Linked DNA regions of Homo sapiens: region 1 is linked to region 2. Evidence: fine-mapped expression QTL. Tissue or cell type: whole blood. Region 2 holds a variant in brackets; the other region holds the start of a gene. All regions are shown on one strand. Distances are from middle to middle.

Region 1 (2,688 bases), 200 kb after region 2:
CAAACCGTGCATCCCAGGGTGAAATCCCACCCGTACCCTCAAGAGCTGGTCAGACTGCGGCTCTTTTCTAATATGAGTCTACCTAAAATAGAAAAATAAACACAACCACAGACCCTGGCCAACCCTCTCTCTCCTCCCCTTTGTGACTCTCCCAAACGCTGGAGGGATGTTAACCTCTGGCAGGCCCGTGGAAGCCAAGCCCCGCGACCTGAGGAGGCGTCCAGGAGCCTCGGCGCAGCCCTGGGGCCTCGAGCCCGTGTCCTCCACCCACCCGACAGGGCCGGTCACCGGTCACACAAAGGAGCCAGTCGCGGGCGCTGGACGCGGGACTCGCCCGAGAGCAGGGAGCCACATCTGGTTCCTGCACGCTGGCAAAAGAGACCCGCTGGAAAATAAGGACTAACGCCCAAACCTGTTGCACAATTCGGGTCCCTTTCACCCAGAAATGAACAAGGGCGCTCAGGAACGGAAAAGCGCGCGGCCCGGTCTCTGCGGGCCGCGGCCGCACCCGGCAGACGGCGCGGAGGCAAAGGCGGCCCGCAGGGCTCCCACCTCCGGCGCTTTGTCTGTGGCGGCAAGGCGGTGGGGGCGGTCGGGGCGTTGGGAGCAGAGGCGGTGGCGGGGCGGGGGCGCCCCTCCTTCACTGCGTAGCCCCTCCGCCCCGCGGCCCGCGCAGGGGAAGAAAGCCGGGCCCGCTACCGCCGCCGCCGCCGACTGCACCGGCCCAAGCCGGCCACCCGGCCGCGGGGCCTGCGCGCTTCTCCCGCCCGGGCCGAGCGGCGGCCACACTCACCTGGCTGGCGCTGACGCTAGCGGCCGGCGGCTCCGGGGCGTTGGGGAAGACAGGGGAACGCTAGCGAGGTGCGGGCGGAGGCGGAGGGCGCGGCGGGAGGAAGGCGGGCTGGGGGCGGAGCGGGCCCGGGCGGCGGCGGCAGCAGCGGCGACGGCTGCGGCTCCAGTCACTCGCGGCAAATCGCGTCCCGGCCCCTCCGTGCGTCAGGCGGGGAGCGGGGGTGCGGGTGGCCCGGCGACCTCTCGGCACCCGCGGCCCGAGCCGCGTCCGCGCGACCCCGCGCGCGCCCGGGTGACGGCGGTACAGCAACCCGCCCGGCGCGGGAAGGAGGAAGGAGGCGGGGCGGGGCGGGGCGTCCAACCGGGCCTGGGGCTGAGGGCTGGGCGCGAGTGGGACTCTGGCGCTCCGGACGGACCCTGCCGTCCCCACCCCTAGCCGAGGCCCAGGCTCCCCAGGCGGGAGGCAGTCTTGGAGAGTGGAAGGGTACCTAGATCTGGAGTCAGAAGTCTGGGCTTAAGAGAGGGTCCGTTACTTGACACCCTGGCAGGTCATTTATTTCCTCTGGCCTCATGCTGGAGTTCGAAGGTTCGAGTACAAAGTCTCCAAGAGCTGCTCCCAAGTACTCACTGCCAAGCGGTGGTGTGGCTGAAGGATGAAGGCAGATGAAAGGGAAAGGGTTGCGGTGAGGAAGGGCTGGATTCAGGGCATTTGTTTTGCTTTGAGGATCTTTCCACTGGACAGTCCAAAATTAATCCACAATGGGGCTCCCTGATAATGGCTACTTCCCCATTTTTACCAACCTAGTTATTTTTCTCCAAGTATACTGACTTAAGAGTCCTTGTTTTCATTTTATTGCGCAAATCATTTGTATGTCATTTCCTGAATTCAGTTCAAAAGAGTCATCAGCAAATTCACACCAGATCAGAGCAGCTGTGTGGTCCCAATTTCAAGACTTCCATATTATTCACTCAGCCACTCACTTCAGTATCACCTAATTCCGTTGATAAAATCTTCCTATTCCAACAACTAAGCAACCAAATTTCTCTCCACTAAAGTTTTCTGACTTAAAATCCCGTGGATTAATTCTTCCTCTTAATTCTGTGAATATCAGTCTGTCTCCATGACTTCCACCTCTTTGCCACTCTAGGTCAAGCCTTTAACTTCACTGCTGCTTCAGTTCCATATAACTGCCAGAGAGAATGCTCCAAAAAGACAGAGCTAAGCATGAAACGTCCCTCTTTAAAATCATTCAAAGTCTCTCCACCTGGTTGAATCAGGTTCAAACTCATTACCATGGTTTACAAAGCCATTTAAAATCTGATCTATTGACCTCCTTGGCTCCAGCTTCAACTCCTAATATATCTACGTATCACACAAATTCAACAGACTTTGTCTTTGTGCCCTTGTAGTTTTCCCCCACCTGAAATCCATCCCTCATTTAACCAGTTGAACTCCTATTGTCCTTCAAGATAATGAAGATAATGCATCCCTTCCTCCTTGGAATCTTCCCTGACATCATCTCCTTTCACCACATCTGTATCCTTACCCCACACATTTACAATGAATTAAATACTCTTTTTCTCTCTGCTTTCATAAAATCGTCTATCTACAGTATTCCCTATGATAATCTTTAATACTTGCTTTTTTCCTGTTGCTTTGCTTGGTGGCCTTTTCTTCCTAGACTGTGTGTTCCTTAAAAGGACAGGGATTTTGTCTAGTTCATTTTTTTTGCTCCCCAGAACATAGCACAGTGCTCAGCACAAAAAAGGTTCTCTTTAACTGTTTGCTGAAGCGTTGAAATAATTTTCCATCCCAACAAATAGATGTTGAGCATCTACTCAACGAAAAGAAAATACAGGGAAGTCCACAGTCCCAGCCTTTTTTAGCCTTCCGTG
Region 2 (2,688 bases):
GCTGCACCCATTAACTCGTCATTTAGCATTAGGTATATCTCCTAATGCTATCCCTCCCCGCTCCCCGCAGCCCACAACAGTCCCCAGAGTGTGATGTTCCCCTTCCTGTGTCCATGTGATCTCACTGTTCAATTCCCACCTATGAGTGAGAATATACGGTGTTTGGTTTTTTGTTCTTGCGATAGTTTACTGAGAATGATGATTTCCAATTCCATACATGTCCCTACAAAGGACATGAACTCATCATTTTTTATTGCTGCATAGTATTCCATGGTGTATATGTGCCACATTTTCTTAATCCAGTCTATCATTGTTGGACATTTGGGTTGGTTCCAAGTCTTTGCTATTGTGAATAGAGCTGCAATAAACATACCTGTGCATGTGTCTTTATAGCAGCATGATTTATAATCCTTTGGGTATATATCCAGTAATGGGATGGCTGGGTCAAATGGTATTTCTAGTTCTAGATCCCTGAGGAATCTCCACACTGACTTCCACAATGGTTGAACTAGTTTACAGTCCCACCAACAGTGTAAAAGTGTTCCTATTTCTCCACATCCTCTCCAGCACCTGTTGTTTCCTGACTTTTTAATGATTGCCATTCTAACTGGTGTGAGATGGTATCTCATTGTGGTTTTGACTTGCATTTCTCTGATGGCCAGTGATGGTGAGCATTTTTTCATGTGTTTTTTGGCTGCATAAATGTCTTCTTTTGAGAAGTGTCTGTTCATGTCCTTCGCCCACTTTTTGATGGGGTTGTTTGTTTTTTTCTTGTAAATTTGTTTGAGTTCATTGTAGATTCTGGATATTAGCCCTTTGTCAGATGAGTAGGTTGCGAAAATTTTCTCCCATTTTGTAGGTTGCCTGTTCACTCTGATGGTAGTTTCTTTTGCTGTGCAGAAGCTCTTTAGTTTAATTAGATCCCATTTGTCAATTTTGGCTTTTGTTGCCATTGCTTTTGGTGTTTTAGACATGAAGTCCTTGCCCATGCCTATGTCCTGAATGGTAAAGCCTAGGTTTTCTTCTAGGGTTTTTATGGTTTTAGGTCTAACATTTAAGTCTTTAATCCATCTTGAATTAATTTTTGTATAAGGTATAAGGAAGGGATCCAGTTTCAGCTTTCTACATATGGCTAGCCAGTTTTCCCAGCACCATTTATTAAATAGTGAATCCTTTCCCCATTGCTTGTTTTTGTCAGGTTTGTCAAAGATCAGATAGTTGTAGATACACGGTGTTATTTCTGAGGGCTCTGTTCTGTTCCATTGATCTATATCTCTGTTTTGGTACCAGTACCATGCTGTTTTGGTTACTGTAGACTTGTAGTATAGTTTGAAGTCAGGTAGC[G/A]TGATGCCTCCAGTGTTGTTCTTTTGGCTTAGGATTGACTTGCTGATGCGGGCTCTTTTTTGGTTCCATATGAACTTTAAAGTAGTTTTTTCCAATTCTGTGAAGAAAGTCATTAGTAGCTTGATGGGGATGGCATTGAATCTATAAATTACCTTGGGCAGTATGGCCATTTTCACGATATTGATTCTTCCTACCCATGAGCATGGAATGTTCTTCCATTTGTTTGTATCCTCTTTTATTTCATTGAGCAGTGGTTTGTAGTTCTCCTTGAAGAGGTCCTTCACATCCCTTGTAAGTTGGATTCCTAGATACTTTATTCTCTTTGAAGCAATTGTGAATGGGAGTTCACTCATGATTTGGCTCTCTGTTTGTTATTGGTGTATAAGAATGCTTGTGATTTTTGTACATTGATTTTGTATCCTGAGACTTTGCTGAAGTTGCTTATCACCTTAAGGAGATTTTGGGCTGAGACAATGGGGTTTTCTAGATATACAATCATGTCATCTGCAAACAGGGACAATTTGACTTCCTCTTTTCCTAACTGAATACCCTTTATTTCCTTTTCCTGCCTGGTTGCCCTGGCCAGGACTTCCAACACTATGTTGAATAGGAGTGGTGAGAGAGGGCATCCCTGTCTTGTGCCAGTTTTCAAAGGGAATGCTTCCAGTTTTTGCCCATTCAGTATGATATTGGCTGTGGGTTTGTCATAGATAGCTCTTATTATTTTGAGATACGTCCCATTAATACCTAATTTATTGAGAGTTTTTAGCATGAAGCGTTGTTGAATTTTGTCAAAGGCTTTTCTGCATCTATTGAGATAATCGTGGTTTTTGTCTTTGGTTCTGTTTATATGCTGGATTACATTTATTCATTTGCGTATATTGAACCAGCCTTGCATCCAAGGGATGAAGCCCACTTGATCATGGTGGATAAGCTTTTTGATGTGCTGCTGGATTCGGTTTGCCAGTATTTTATTGAGGATTTTTGCATCAATGTTCATCAAGGATATTGGTCTAAAATTCTCTTTTTTGGTTGTGTCACTGCCAGCCTTTGGTATCAGGATGATGCTGGCCTCATAAAATGAGTTAGGGAGGATTCCCTCTTTTTCTATTGATTGGAATAGTTTCAGAAGGAATGGTACCAGTTCCTCCTTGTACCTCTGGTAGAATTTCGCTGTGAATCCATCTGGTCCTGGACTCTGTTTGTTGGTAAGCTACTGATTATTGCCACAATGTCAAAGTCTGTTATTGGTCTGTTCAGAGAGTCAACTTCTTCCTGGTTTAGTCTTGGGAGGGTGTATGTGTCAAGGAATTTATCCATTTCTTCTAGATTTTCTAGTTTATT

What was found. PIP is the estimated chance that this variant, and not a neighbour inherited with it, causes the effect.
Region 1: it holds the start of SESTD1, and the variant in region 2 is fine-mapped to the expression of SESTD1 in whole blood (TOPMed, PIP 0.99).

The regions. Positions count from the first base shown.
Region 1 is chr2:179,263,706-179,266,393 of GRCh38, forward strand. SESTD1 (SEC14 and spectrin domain containing 1) reads right to left here and starts at 1,127. Exons shown (of 18, transcript NM_178123.5): 1 at 794-1,127. RefSeq lists silencers at 257-420, 529-598, 609-1,228.
Region 2 is chr2:179,061,272-179,063,959 of GRCh38, forward strand. No RefSeq gene overlaps it. Among named protein-coding and RNA genes, the nearest start is that of CCDC141, 12 kb to the left of the region's middle. The variant G/A (reference allele first, on the strand shown) is at 1,345.